2 separate regions of the Homo sapiens genome follow, and region 2 is linked to region 1. A link means that fine-mapping ties the variant in region 1 to the expression of a gene that starts in the linked region. Tissue or cell type: subcutaneous fat. Region 1 holds a variant in brackets; the other region holds the start of a gene. All regions are shown on one strand. Distances are from middle to middle.

Region 1 (8,108 bases):
AGGGCTTGGCTAGTGAAAAGTAAAGAGAACTCTAAAGAAGAACTCTAAAGCGTGCAGGATAGCATTTTTAAGGTACAGCCACTATTCCCTGGACTCAGATAGAACACCTAAAAAAGAGCTCCTGGCCCTCATACCTACGCACACCACGGCTGAGATCAAGACCTTTTTGGAGAAGGCACAGACATGGCTCGCCGCGTGGCAGAGAAGTCACCAAGGTTCCATGCTGGCCAAACTCGCTGGAAACCCACCTTCTGAATGTTGGGGGAAGCCATCCACGGGGAGGCGCTGTGTCTTAGAACTCACCACAAAGCTGCCTTTACAGAGTGCCAGGGGAAACTGGTCACCAGAGGAGCCTAACTGACAGCACTCCACTGTAAAGTCAGCTGAGAGGACTGACTGCCGGGTTCGGCTGACCCTCTGCACAATGAGGAGACAGATGCTACAGAAGTCACCTATGTTGCAGGAGTCAGGCACAGGGAAAGCTATGAAAGCCTGTGTTGTAGGAGTCAGGCATTTAGGAAGTGGTACCCGCAGTGGCCTGGCCAGAGGAGCACACCAAGTCAGGATGAGAAGCACCCTTCCCATGCAGCGTCCTTCCACACCCCACGATGACAAGGCTTACCATCTTGCCAGCTGACAAAGGAGAAATGTTTACCAGATCCATCCCCATGATCACAAAGCAGGTATTGAAGGGTGGATTGGAACTGAAAGATGATAAGTTGGAGCTGAAAAAGTTACTCCCTGCATAGGAGGGAACTTTCTTAAACTGATAAAAGGAAGTAACTGAAAGCCTCCAGCAAAACCAATGATGAAAAATTATAAGAATTCCTTTTTAAGTCATGTCAAGAAAAAAAGTACCTCATTACTGCTTCTATTTGATACTTCCCTGGAAGTCCTCTCAAGGCAATAAGAAAATGAAAGGAAATAAAAGGTATAAAGGCTAGAAATGAATAAACAAAAACAGTATGATTTGTAGACAATATGGCTGAACACATAGAATACTCCAAGAAATCCACAGATTGTTAGAATTAAGAAATTCAGCAAGGTTGGTGAATACAAAGTCAATATTTTTTAAATGCCCATTCTTAGTTAGCAACAAAACCTAATTAGAAATATATCTTTTAAGAATAGAGATTGCTTTGATAAAATTTATTCGTGTAGGTATTTCATTTGATATCTGTCATTTTAAATATATTGGTATGAATAAATTTAATTCGACTGTAAGCCATGATTTCGATACTAATTTTCTTTTATTCTCTGTTTCTCTGTTTTTCTTTTTTTGGACAAATATATGTGGAAAGCCTGCTATGTGCCAACAATTGCATTAGGCCTTTAGGATAGTTATAAAGATGATCAAGATATGGTTCATTATCAAGTGGTTCAAGTTGGGGGAGAAGATAGAACTATAAAAAAATTAAAAATAGCACAGCAATGAGGTTTAAAACAGAGAGGAAATTAGAAGGGAGGGAGGGAAGAAAAGAGGAAGAAAGGCAGAAGGGAAAGAAGGAGGAAAGGAAGGATGAAAGGAAAGAGGTAGAGAGAAAGGGAGGGAGGACAGTAACTTTAAAAATTGACAAGGGAAGGAGACAAGATGAGAAACTCTAAAAACTGCAGATATTATTTCATGCTATATGTTCCATCCTCTGATGAGAATGTGAGGAAAGAAAATTGTATCCTGCATGGCTGAAAATGGTCCCCTACAAAAATATCATGTTGGACAACTAATCTGAGATAGTGGTATCTCTGGAAAGCAGTTTAGCACTGGTGAGTTTGGACTTTCATGGCAGGCTGCCTTGGTTCATATCTTTTGGTAATGATACTTATCCTCTGTAAGGCCCATTTCTTTATTTGTGAAATGAAGACAATAGAGTGCTTAGATATAATTTAGAACAATGTCCGTCACATAGTAAACACGTAATAAACGGTAGCTCTTATTGTTATTATTATTACTATTATTACCTTGAAGACAGGGGCTCTGTCTTGTTCATCATTCCATCTCCAGCTCTTAGCACAGTCCCTGGCACAATTCAAACATGTATTTGGATGAATGACAAATAGCTACTGAATATTTGCCCTGTTCCAAGCATTGTTAGAGGTACATGGGACAGGGCAGTGAACAAAACAGGCAAAACCTCCTGCTGTCTCAGAGTTCACACTCTAATGGGGAGACCCAGGCAATGAGGAAATAATTAAAATATACAATGTGTCTTATGGCAATAAATGACAAAGAAAAATAAAGCAGAGGTGAGAAACAGTGGCAGTGTTTTGGTGATCATTTGCTTTGCAACAAGCCACTCCCCAAAGTTAGTGGCCTAAAACAATTTAATCACAGTTCATGTTCTGGCTACAACAATACACATCCCTCTCATGTGCAAAATACACTCATTCCTCCCTCAGAGCCTCGTACCATTAAGGGTTCAGGTTCAAAGCTTAAGATCTTATCCTCTGAAGTAGGTTTAGGGACAAACAAGTCTTCTCAGGTACTTCTTCTGGGGACACAGAGACTTGTGAACTAAAAGACAAGTTACCTACCTTCCAACACAACTGGCATGCAATGGGGATATAGGAAAAGATAATTTCAATAGGCGCTTCTGTGCAAAAGCGGGGGAAATGAGAGTCACTCAGCAGTCACGGTTCATATTAATCTAAAATCTAGCCAGGCATATATCCCAAGTCTTCCTGATGTGAGGACAAGAATTATTTCTTGATTAGGGCTCACTTTTTCTCTTTGAGAATGGTTCGCCTCAGCTTTTGGATTTGTCCTCTGAATCATCCTTCCTTGTCTATAAAATGCATGTATATACTCATACATACATAGAGAGAAAGAGAGAGAGAGAGAGAGAGAGACTCTGTCACGCAGGCTGGAGTGCAATGGTGTGATCTCAGCTCACTGCAACCTACAACTCCTGGGTTCAAGCAATTCTCCTGTCTCAGCCTCCCGAGTAGCTGAGACTACAGGTGCACGCCACCATGCCTGGCTACTTTTTGTATTTTTAGTAGAGACGGGGTTTCACCATATTGGTCAGGCTGGTCTCGAACTCCTGACCTCAGGTGATCCACCCACCTCAGTCTCCCAAATGCTGGGATTACAGGCATGAGCCACCGTGCCCGGCCCATAAAATATTTTTTATGAAAACATCTCAGCGTACTCCATGCCTATAGAAAGTTTGACTCCCAGATGTCTCTTTTCATTTTGAACTATCTCTGCCCTTCTTAAATCAAGCTGATATAATTCCTTTAAATACTTTCTAGCTTTTTAACATACTAAATTAGAAAAAAAATGCCTACATTTATCTTTGAATGCTACTTTGGGCTACAAACCAAAGGGATACAGGACAGCACCCTTAAGATTCTTAGAAGCTCTTTCGCTTGGTCAGAGGGTCTGAGGTCTTAACAAAGTGTTTTACAGCCACGCCCTTGGTTTGATCTTGACCCTAAGGTCACATTTTACTGCCAGTGCCCTGAATTTGACCTTTGCCCCAGGTTTTAATATTTTAAATTTATCTTCAGAATGTCTTGCTGTCTGGAAAAACTATTCTGGGCCGTCTTTATTTTCCCTAAATCTTGCTTAAAAATGGAATACAGTAGTCCCCCCTTATTCATGGGGGATACGTTCCAAGACCCCAGTAGATGCCCAAGCCTGATTGCCATTAATCAAGACACATTTCTGTTTATGTCTTCTACCCACCGATTTAATGCCTTTTCCATCTTAACTAAGCATCTATCACGCACGGTAGCCATACTTTCACAGTTGGAGATGTGACAGCAAAACTAGCACAAATCTCTTTTTCCTTCTTCACCATTTTTGGATAGAGGATGCATCCTTACCATAGACCTTAGCAACTTTGGCATATGAATTTTTTCCTTCTTTATTAAGTTGAGAATTTTCACCTTCTCACTTAAAGGAAGCACTTTACAGCTTCTCTTTGGCACATCCAAATTGCCAGCATCACTACTCCTGTCCTTTGCGGCCATTGTTAAGTAAAATACGGGTGACTTGAACACAAGCACTGCATTACCTGACAGACAGTTGATCTGATCATGGAGAGGTCTGCTAAGTGACTAATGGGTGATCATCGTAGATAGCATGGATCCGCTGGACAAAGGAATGGTTCATGTCCCAGGCAGGATGAGATTTCATCACGCTACTCAGAACGGCACGCAATTTAAAACTTATGAATTGTTTATTCCTGGAATTTTCCATTTAATATTTTTGGACTGTGGTTGACTGCTGGTAACTGAAACTGCAGAAAGGGAAACTGGGGACAGAGGGGACTACTGTAGTTTCTTCTTTAGGTTATTGCTTTCTTCCTGTACTTTATCTTGGGTAACTAAAAGATACACATTTTGGCACTTTCAATATCCTTCCTGGGTATCTCCCTAGCTAGACACCGAGTCCACTGGTTACATTTTGCTACATTCCACATTACTCCTGGAGACCATGTTGCCAAACTTTACAACACCGTATAATGTCTGTTCCCTTTCTCAAACTTCCAGGAACAATTTCTTCACTGCCTTTTGTCTCTGCAACACCCTTCAAGTCTCCAAAGTTTTTGTTATAGTAGTACTCCACTTTTAAGTGCATGATTTTTCCATTGCTATGTTAAAAGCCACTCCATGACATAGTGGCTTAAAACAGTAATAATTCATTCAGTCTCATAATTTGTAGTTTGGGTGATTATTATAAGTACTGTCAGCTGGAAGCTGGGATAGCTAGAAGGTCTGGAATGGTTTCATCCACACAGTAGGCATTTGGTACTGGCTGCCAGCTAAGAGCCAAGCAGAGGCCTTGGGGGAGGGCCTCAGCTGTCCTCTGCATGGGCCTCTCCATGTGGCGGCCTCAGCTTCCTCAGAGCATTGGGCTAAGTTCCAAGAAGGGAAGGCAGAATTTAAAGATCCCTTAACGCCCAGACTTCTGCCACATTCCATTTGTCAAAACAGGTCACAGGGCCAGTTGTGTTCAAGGTGAAGGGAAATAAACTCTAGATTCCACTTTTTGATGGAAAAATGGCCAGGTCATCATTGCAAA[C/T]GAGCGTGAAGAATGGAATATACTGGTGTGGTCTTTTTTGGAAATACAACCTACCACAGCCAGAGTGTATGTCTACGTATGTAATTTAAAATAAGATGGTCAGGGGAGGCCTTCAGAGACAGTGACATTTGAGCAAAGACCTGAAGAAGAAGAGAGGAAGCCTTGCAGATATTTGGGATGAAAGCGTTACACACTGAAATAATTGTAAATACAAAAACTCTGATGTGGTAATGAGCCTGGTCTACCCAAGGGATGATAAGGAGGCCACTGTGACTGAAGTAGAGGGCCAAGAAGGAAGGAATAAGTAGTTAGAGGTGAGGTCAAAGAAGTCATGAAAGCCAGATCATGTAGGGCTTAGAGGAACCTAGAGAAAGGAATGTTTGGTTAAAAGGATAAATAATTGTGTTTCCAACAGGTGTCCATAGAATAGGCCCTTCCTATGTGGTAGTAACAAAAATAAGTAAAAACTTGAGAAAGAATCTCCTCACTCCCCACCCCCAAATTCCTGCCAGATAATTCCATAACTAGTTCCTGTCCACGGGCAACTCTATTCCACTTCCTGAAGTATAGTTTTCACAGGGAGGCGGCACAGCCTGTTAGAAAAGTTTGCCTCTACTCCTCAAACCCTGCTCTATGTGAATGAATTATCACATACATATGAATCTAATTTTCATTTCAGATACTGTCCAACTTCCCACCTTACCAACTTAGGAAAACTTCATCTTTCTTTTCAGTTTTATAGATGATGTCATTGTTGATTTTAAATTATAAAATGGAATGCTTCCAAAGGAGGTTACAGTTCCTGCTGCAATATATCAGTCTTAGAACATGAACAACTTGTAATTGTTAAGTGCATGTTCAAAGCTAATTGTGTGGCATTTGGTTGCTGCTTTTCAGGAAAACTTTTAAAAGCAGAGTATATTCTGAGCAGTCTAATAAGCAACAATGGAGCAACGGGTGAGTACTTTCATATCTTCACAATGACTTTTACCTCAGCCCCGAACAGAGCACTCATTTAATAACAACTTAGTGACTTAATAGTTACTATACCTTAGATGTTTCCAGAGCTATCTGGGGCTGGCTCTGCCACTGATGAATGAAGAAGCTTTGATCAAGCAGCTTACATCTCTGTGTCTCTGTTTTCTCTAAGTTAAAAAAAAAAACAACAAAGACAAGGAACCTACTATTGGCCTGCTTCCTTACAGAGTATGCTATCTAATGAACAATCACTGTCAAGGCAGATAACTCAGTGGGCCTTAGAAAGGTTCAACAGCAGCTTTTAAACAAAATTGTGATTGGAAATAAAAGCCTCTAAGTTCAGAAGAGTCTGCTTCGGCTTTATCAATTTAAATGGTTCAGAAAATGGATTTGATTTTTGGTACATAAGAACTTTAATAAAAACTTGTTTCAAAATGGATTTTCTTTCAATATTTAATTATCCATGAAAGGAGGCAAGACCTAATAGTTAGGTAACAAATAACTTAAGGCTTCAGATATCTTGTCTGAATTTCTGGGCATTTAAGTTAGCAAGTTTACCAATAAGTTGAGCACAGTTTCCATTGGACTTTTAAACTCAGCATGCTTGGATGTGAGGTCTCAAACTGCCTGAAACTTGTGGACATTTCTAGTGGGGAGACAGTTTGGAATCCAAATATTAACCACACACCCCTCACTTGTGGCCACCATCACTAAACTACAGTATACACTCTTGTCATCATGTGTGTGTGCACACACACACGCACGCACACAAGGATTCAAAGCTAGGAAGAAAATAAATATTATCTGATGTGACAGAGAATGGTGAGGGGGTAGTAAAGAGTCTGCCTCTATTTTTGATGTTTGACCGACCACTGACAGTTTTCAGGCCACAGCCTTTTTTACTTTTGCCTCACACTGGACAGTCCGATTAAAACAAACAAACAAACAACAAAAAGCCCTTTCATCCACACACCCAAACCCAGCTTACAGGAACCTTTACCCGGCCCCACACCCCAATCACAGTGAAAAGCAAAGCCGCTCACCACTCCCTGCCTGAATCAAAGGAGCAGCTTAGGTGCTAGCCTTACTTACCCTAGAAAGTCTCATTATGTGAGCAATAAATCTTCTCATACCCTCTTGGTACATGTGTGCAGTCATCAGTTTTGACATCCAAACAAATTTTCCTCAGATGGGATCCACCCCACGCTCCGCAAAGCAACCATAAGACAGTGGGGGTAACAGTGTAGAAATACTACTCTGTGGAGGCCTTTGAGGAAAAGCACTGAGGCTGAGACCTGAAGGAGAAGGATCTGGTTTCTTAAGAAGCCAGAGGAAAGAGAATCCCAAGCAGGGCTAGTGGTAAGTGCAGCTGCCATGAAGCAAGAGGCCAGCCCTATAACAAGGAGGCAAAATAAAGTAGAGTGGACAGAGAGTAAGTAGGGGAACTGGAGACCAGACAGGAGTCAGTTCCTGCAGAGCCTTAGACTACAGCAAGAAGTTTGGACCTGATTCTAAATGTAGAGACGAGATTGTTTCTCAAAATGATGTCACATGTGCTCATGAAGACTTCTGTGAAAATAGTTTTAATTTGCAAGGCTATATCTCTGATAATTCAAGGGAATTTTCATCTTTTCTTTTAGGTACCTGGCTGTACAGAAATGAAAGTGACAAGGTCCTGGTGCAGTCGGTCTGTATACAGATCAGAGGGCAGATTCTGCAAAAGCTGGGTACAATCATGTAAAACTTGCATTTCTCAAGGCTCATTTACAAAGCCTGGCTGCATGGTTTCACTGTGGAATTTTCTTCTTTTATCAGGCTAAAATTGTTAATTTCCACTTGCCTTAGTTTCCTCATCGAAAAGAGAATGGCATTTAAGATCCTAGGAGTGTCACAAATATTAATAAAATGTGTTTTTTTCTAGTGAGTTTTGTTAGAGAGGTTCACGGTTGTATATTGTAATGTTAACTGTAGGGTTCCCAGTGTTATTTCTAGCATCTGACTCAGTTCAGCAGGACTCCATGTGATATGGTGACACCTTATACTATACCCACCGTGACACTGTTTTCGTTCATTCCTTAAGGTATTCATGAATTTTTCAAGT
Region 2 (8,108 bases), 120 kb before region 1:
ATCATTTGTTCTTGTTGACCAATTTCACTTCATTGACACTGTCACTTCCATCTACTTGGCTTTTAAGCAGGCTTTCCTGAGTGTGTGACCTGTGCAATCCATAGGGCCCTGCACTCAGAGTCCCATGCTTATATCGGCTATCATCAACCTGAAATGCTTAATATTTTTGAACAAGAGGCCCTGCAAAGTCTCTTGCCAGTCCTGTTTTTAGGATATACTTTGTTTTGGTTTTTTTACTACTGTTCTAAGCGTTCTTTACCCATCTCCTCTATGGATCTCTCTTTTTCTGCGTGAATGCCAGTATTACCAACTTCCACCTCTGTGGCCTTCTTTCTATCCTGTACATTCCCCTTTGGTAATATCTAACTACAATTATAGTTTTTTGACTGCCTCTAAGTCATTTACCCATATTTCTGTGTCTCTCACCCAGGCCTGTGATTCTATTTCCTAAATATTTCTTTCCCTTCCTTTTTATTCCATTGCTACTGCCATTAATTAAGGCTAGTCATCACTTCTCTCTACAATACTGCAGTACTCTTCTAACTCATTTTCCTAATTCCAGTCTTGCCTCCTAATCCACCCACCACCAGGATCCCTCCCTTGCATGAACCTTGCTCCATACTCCAACCTTCCCACAACAGTAAGTATTCTTTCTAAAACAGTTTTATGATTTTACATTCTTTGAAATTTTCTGTTTTCTGTTGTTTTTTTTTTTCTTGAGATGGAGTCTTGCTCTGTTGCCCAGGCTGGAGTGCAGTGGCGCAATCTTGCCTCACTGCAACCTCCACCTCCCGGGTTCAAGAAATTCTCTGCCTCAGCCTCCCAAGTAGCTGTGACTACAGGCATCCGCCACCACGCCCAGCTAATTTTTGTATTTTTAGTAGAGACAAGGTTTCACCATCTTGGCCAGGCTGGTCTTGAACTCCTGACCTCGTGATCCGCCCGCCTCGGCCTCTCAGAGTGCTGGGATTACAGGCGTGAGCCACCACGCCTGGCCCAAATTTTCTATGTTGTCAATATAAATATCCAAACTCCTTAAAATGAAACACAAAGACCTCCTATTATGAGCCAACTCTTGCCAATTTTTTCCAACTAATTTCTGGCCACATCACTACTAATCCATCAGTCACTGTGATTGCCTTAAGTGCATTGCTTGTGTGCACAGTCTGAATCTGTAGCACCAATGTAGCACTTGACACAAAAGATTCCCTAAACATGTTATTGAGATGAACGAATGATGTCAGCTTGTATCAGCATTTTATATTTTATATTCAAGATGATAAATCCTAGAAAATCAAAATGAGTATGATGCTGCAGCCAGTTTTCCTGCGTGTCATAATGTATTCCTTATATAGGTGTACATCTCAATCACTTAAAATAGTTGAAATTTGTGTAATGAAACTTCCATCTTTGAAATCTTACTAAAACTCACCACTGGATTATAAATGAGCCATTTTGTCTTTGTGTTTTACATGACTCTAAGGATCTTACCAGGAATCCCTGTTGAAGACAATCTGACTGTTGTCCAAACTGTAAGAAAGATAATATCTCCTATGAGATCCCTCCTCTTCTATCAGTGCCATTGCCTTTCTCTCCATACTCAGGTGTACAGTGCCCTTTTTTAGGCTCTGAAATGTACAGCCCTTCATCCTAAACACTGTATTTCCAACATTTTTGCTCCCCTACCCCCAAATAGAATTTTGCAAAGACAATAATTCCTTCACATAAAGTCGATATTCATCTTTCATTATAACTTTAGATACAAAGGGTCTAAATCTGACGTTGAATAAACATAACTCATACATTACTCTTTTAAATGTATCCAACACAAATTTTATATCCTAGTGATTTGATGTTCCCCATCATCCATTTAAAAACGCATGTACAGGCTGGGCGCAGTGGCTCACTCCCATAGTCCCAACACTTTGGGAGGCTGAGATGGGTAGATCACTTGAGCCCAGGAGTTCGAGACCAGTCTGGACAACATGGAGAAACACTGTCTTTACAAAAAACAAACAAACAAAAAAACAAAAACAAAAATTAGCCAGGTGTGATGGTGTACACCTGTGGTCCCAGCTACCTGGGAGGCTGAAGCAGGAGGATCACTTGAGACCAGGAGGTCAAGGCTGCAGTGAGCTGTGATTGTGCCACTGCATTCCAGCCCAGGTGACAGCCCTATCTCAAAAAAGTTTAAAATTTAAAAAATTTAAAAATAAAGACACATGTACAAATCTTTTTTAACAATTGGAAATTTTATATCATTCCTGTATTTCCGTAACCTTCTGTTTCATTTCACTTCATCCATAGAAGTTTATCCTAGTATAAAACAGTTTATATACTTGAAAGTTTTTGTCATATTTCTTTACAGTAAAAATATGTAGGCCGGGTGCAGTGGCTCAAGCCTGTAATCCCAGCACTTTGGGAAGCGAAGGCAGGCAGATCACCAGAGGTCAGGAGTTCGAGACCAGCCTGGCCGATATGGTGAAACCCTGTCTCTACTAAAATACAAAAATTAGCTGGGCGTGGTGGCGGGTGCCTGTAGTCCCAGTTACTTGGGAAGCTGAGGCAGGAGAATCGCTTGAACCCAGGAGGCAGAGGTTGCAGTGAACAGAGATCATGCCACTGCACTCCAGCCTGGGCAACATGTCTCTCAAAAAAAGTATATATTGAAATTAAACCTTTCTGGCTGGGTGTGGTGGCTCACACCTGTAATCCCAGTGCTTTGGGAGGCCGAGGCAGACAGACCTGAGGTCAGGAGTTCGAGACCAGCCTGGCCAACATGGTGAAGCCCCACCTCTACTAAAAATACAAAAAATTAGCTGGGCGTGCTGGCAGGCACCTGTAATCCCAGCTACTCGGAAGGCTGAGGCAGGAGAATCGTTTGAACCCAGGAGGCAGAGGCTGCAGCGAGCCGAGATTGTGCCACTGCACCCCAGCCTGGGCAACAAGAGCGAAACTCCATCTCAAAAAAAAAAAAAAAAATAGAAAAGAAAAAAGAAATTAAACATTTCTGTTTTCTGTGACCATAGACTCTAAGTATTAAACTTTCTTAAAGATTGAATTGTACAAGTATTGATTCATAATTGATGAAGAAGACAAAAATAAAATGGTACGTTTTGATGAATATTAAGTGATAAAATTTATTCAAGTGTCACTTCTCCATAAGATTTCTGGAGTTTTAAAAAATTAATTCACAGCTGAATGTTACTTATAGTTGGAATAAAACAACATTCCACAAAAATATACACATGGAAGAGGAGAGGAACTGTGTTTACATAAATAAATAGAGATAGAATTTTGTTATAGCAATGCCATTTGGTTATTTAAACTTCTAAGGTCATATATTAAACATTACATAGCGATCTATCACACAAAAAAAATGTGTTTTAAGTGATCGAGCAACTGACTATTCAACTATTTCCTCCTATTTTGTTGTAAACAATTGACTTGCCAAAGCATTTATGACCCAGCTTTTGGAGTCCTTCACTCTCTCAGTTTCTAGGAAGTATACCAAAGGCTTTACCAAAATGTATCAAATGACTATTAATAAAACCTATTATTCCTTCACTCTAGAGGAAACTTCTTTAACCCAGCAGGCTCAAAAAGGATTGAGAAAATTAAAATATTGTTTATGTCAATAACTTTTCCAATAAAATATATTTTGACATTTAGAAATCTTAGGTACTTTTGATTTTTTTGTCAAAATTTCGAGTTGCAGATTTCAGTTGTTCCATGGAAGGACAATGTCCACTGTGTAACTCAATAAGACACTTTTCACTGTCAAACTAGTCAGCCTAATCAGATATTCTATCCAAAAAGTCCTAACTTTATTTTCCAGTTCAGCAATATATGTGTCTCTGTGATAACAAGCTCACTTCTAAGACAGAGCACAGAATGAAGCCTTAATGTGCATCTGTCTTTTGCTAACAGATTTCAACAATGTCATATTCATTGTTTCTTACTGACATTCTCTCTTCTTGGCTCTAAGAGGACTCTCCATTCTTAGTCTAAATAATAAGTTTTTCTTGCACTTTCATTAGGAGAAGGAACTTTTCTGTAGTAATACAGCTCCCAGAATACCTTTCACCGAAGCAATTCCTAAAGGGGTGTGTCTTATGGTGCAAGATTGCTGAAAGTCCCGGAATTGAATTACACAACCATATTCTGAGACAGTCACAGGATTGGTTGTTTTTTTTTTTTTAATTCCTACTTCCTGAAACTGAAGCCGTTTATGAGAAACAGTGTGTTTCAGAGAGGCTGTACCAGAATTAACTCTGCTCAGAGTTAGATTTGCTGGTCTTAAAGTACTTTTCCTCTTTAAGATAAAAGTGAGTATCATCCTTTAAATGACAAAACGCAGTAGATGGCATAATATATGAGGAAGTATTTGTCTTAAGTGTTGACTCAGTTTCCATCTGCTGATCTTGTTTATATTTAAATAACTTTAGAGCTCTAAGAACCTTTGCACTTCTATAATAGAAACTTTCCAGAAAGGGGAGGATGAGTTGGTGGGGTGAAGGGGGTGGAGTGGGGAAGGGGAGGGAGAGAAGGGAAAAGTTACCTACAATGGTAAACTGTAGTCATTATGAAGGGGAGAAGGCAAACCAGTTTTTCATAAGGTTTTAATAACAAGTTTCTTAAGTCACTGAGCTTCTGGTCTTGTCACTTAACTGAGATGTTTAATTAAAGGATTGTTAGGATTATTTGTTTAAAAAAAAACTCTATGACTTTTGCCTGGAATACATAGGTAATAATAGAAACTACCACTTTTATGACAGCATCAGTAATTTTGCTAGGAAACAGGTAGATAAGGCACGAGACTTACTCGTCTCATATGGGTGAATTGACGGGAATTCTGAGTGCGTGGAAGCATTGTTTAGAGACAAAGCATCCAGAAAAATTAAATTCCTTTGCATGTCTATTTAGAAAAATCCTTTAATTAAAAAATTCTAGTGTTTGAAATTAGTACTTTAGAGTACTTTGAAAAGCCACAAATTAAAACCTTTAAGATGGTTTGGGATTTGAGGATGGGTGAGGGTACAAACAGGCAGGATCAGGAAGGAGAGGACTTTATGCCACAATATAATAGCATCTCTGCTTGCGATATATATTTCTCTCTCTCTCTGTCTCTCTCTCTCTCCCTTTTACTTTCTTTTTACTTTGTGCCACTAATTCTCTTATAAGAAACAATATCCATTTAATTTGGGGTATAATTTATGCACTTGGGATACACTCTAGTCTCTAGAACCAATGTCAAGTCCAGTCCTTGTCTGCTGACCGAAACAATTTACTTCTCTCTTCCCACCTCCTTCCCACCCCATCAACCTCAAGCCTCAAGAGAAACAAAATACTTAAACTTATTTTAGAAATAACTTATTCCCCATATCAAAGATCTTTTAAATCTGAGATGAATCTCTCAAATTTCTTCCGCCAAGAAGACACCAAAATTGTATAGCATCTCTATCTGCATGAGTAGGAAGCCAATAATTACTTTAAACTTTTCAAAATCTATTTTAAACTGTAAAGAAAAGGCATGTGTAAATTATGATGGATATTAGGCATTATCATATATAATAATACTGTGATGAGCTTTGCTGATGTGTTAAGCTGTAACAATACCTCCCAGCAAGTGCCATGTGATCTAGGTTTGGATTTAGAGCCTGAAGTTTTCCTTAAGAATAAGTTTGTGCATTTCAAGATATTTCTGAAATTCCATGGCTCCTTCTATTCCAAACAATTTTACTGATCCCTTTCCCATGAACACAAGGCATGAATTGCTTTTATTATTCTCTAATCTATTGCAGAGAATGATGGCTTTTTGGCATAAGCTGTTCATTGTAAATGATTTTCTTTCTTGAAATTTTGAATATCTATGGATTGAAGAACTCTTAAAGGAATGAGCATTTAAACTTTTGGTGAAAATATATTCCATATTTTTGTTTTTTTTGTATTTTGTATTGTATTTGTTGCCTCTCTATATGGGGGAGTCTTTGTTTCTTGTTATTGATGGTGACAACTGTTTTTGCAGAATGTTGTAATATGCTTTATTTATAGAGAACTGTGGGATAGACAAACTTAAAAGAAAGAATATTATCTGGTGCTATCATTCTTCTATGTCTGAAGAAAAGAAGAGATGATTATAACTTAAATATCAGATACATACAAATACAACTTTTCCTAAGTATGGTATACATGCTACTGATTTTAGGCAGTACATGTCTAAACTTCAAAATTTTGAGTTATTTGCTAGCTTAATATAAATTAACATAATTTGCTTATAAAACCTAGAATTTCATGAATACTGTTGTTCAGGAAAGTGTTAAGTAAGAAGTTGAGCTAATTTACTATTGATTTTAAGGAAATGATTAAATAAATAATATTACAGGTAATCTGCAGATTTGGCAAAAATTATGAAGATGGCATGCAAATGGCTAAAGTTTCAGACATGCTACACTAATGCATTTGAGAAGTGGATATTTTCTTAGCCAGTGCAGTATCTTTGAATTTTACTGGGCCTTGGTTACAGAGCTCAGTTGACAATGCAATCTGTTCAATTTCCTAAGTATAGATGTACAAAGTATTTGACAGAGAAATATTTTATCAAACGTTTATCACACCTGTAGCCTAATAAACTATTATATTTCCTCGTAAATTATCATATAATTGAAGGGATGCAGAAGATAGCCAATACTTTTTCAAATAAGAGTGATAGAAAGGGTGAAATGTCTCAGCTTGAATACTACAGGTTCATTCTGCTTGTTTCACTGAACTTCTGAACTCAGGGGCCAGGGGGGACTTTAAACATTATCTAGATCAAGGGCTACTAATGGGTCATAGTATGTGCCAATGGCTATATGCAATAATTTCATTTCTGGGAATCCATCCTAAGGGGGAAATAATTCTAGACAAGGGAAAAATTCGCAAACATGTTCATCATAAAGTCGTAATAACAAATAATTGCAAGCATTCTCATAAAAGGGGGAGGTTAAGCAAAAGATACTGTACCCATAAAACATGATAGGATAAAAAATAGTACCAGCACAGAAAATACTAAGTGAAAAACAGACTCAGGATTGAATAACTTGTATGCATGCAAGTATTTACATAAAATGGTATAGATATAAATTCAGAAATATTCTAAAAGTGATTGTTGTCTTACAGTGATAGATTCTTTCCCTTCCTTCTATTTCTTTCTACATAACATGATATTCTTACAAAAAATTTTTAAATTATTATATAATATACTTATATCTTTTTTGAGAAAACAAATATAGTTTATTAAATAGAACTATATTGCTAATAATATATAGTAAATAAAACTATGCAGCTTTGGAAGATAAAAGTTTTTCCTTCTTTTTATTTGGCATACAAATAACCAGCTATGTGAAAGAAGAGAGGACGGAGTCTCAGTGCTAGGAACAAACAGGTGCAGCGGAGTCAGTGAACAGAGAAGGAAATACCAGTTGAAACACTTACTATTGGTTCATTTTTCTTGTGTTGATTGCTTCTCTGTCAACTGTAGCTTTTACTTCAGTCTAATAATTCTTTTGGCTTAAAGATAAAAAAAAAAAAGGCAGGGAAGGGGGAATGGAAATTTGGCCTGACCTGTGTGCAAATAACCTCTTAACTCATTTCTTGTTCTTATGGATTTCCATATTTTGGATTTAGTAATTTATATCTGCACATATTGTACTTATATTCAATTTTGTCATGTCTTTGTATATACTCCTACTGCACCTCAAAATGCACTGTGTCATTGGCTCACCAGCACTGCTTTGACCTTAACCCCAGCACATCTGGTTACTGTGGTGCATTCTCCATCAGTGCATAATATGCACCCAAAATATCTGCAGAATTGCCAGCAAAAGCCTTGTCCATTCATAATTACCTTTTTTTCTACAAAAAAAAAATTTAGAACCTCATCATGTGTCCTTTTAGTTGGCATTTCTTCACAGTAACTTCAGCTCTAATTAAAGTTTGGACACTGCTGGTCAGCCCGTCATCATTTTCCAAGATAACTATATCATTACCGAGAAATTTTCTTCCCTGAGGTCATGCCCCAAATAATTATTGTGAAAGATAATAAACTGTAAGTGGTAACATCTCTT

Alleles and levels. Alleles are on the strand shown, and positions count from the first base shown. SD is a standard deviation of normalised expression in the study named.
In carriers of allele T in region 1, the expression in subcutaneous fat of the gene that starts at base 4,228 in region 2 tends to be lower than with C alone (small effect, 0.30 SD a copy in GTEx).

The links. PIP is the estimated chance that this variant, and not a neighbour inherited with it, causes the effect.
Region 2: it holds the start of ALPK1, and the variant in region 1 is fine-mapped to the expression of ALPK1 in subcutaneous fat (GTEx, PIP above 0.99). The same link has a PIP of 0.9 or more in sun-exposed skin.

What each region holds. Positions count from the first base shown.
Region 1 is chr4:112,418,018-112,426,125 of GRCh38, forward strand. ALPK1 (alpha kinase 1) reads left to right here. Exons shown (of 16, transcript NM_025144.4): 6 at 5,927-5,986; 7 at 7,648-7,734. Among named protein-coding and RNA genes, the nearest start is that of NEUROG2-AS1, 93 kb to the right of the region's middle. The variant C/T (reference allele first, on the strand shown) is at 5,030.
Region 2 is chr4:112,293,142-112,301,249 of GRCh38, forward strand. ALPK1 (alpha kinase 1) reads left to right here and starts at 4,228. Exons shown (of 16, transcript NM_025144.4): 1 at 4,228-4,328. RefSeq lists an enhancer at 3,992-4,286.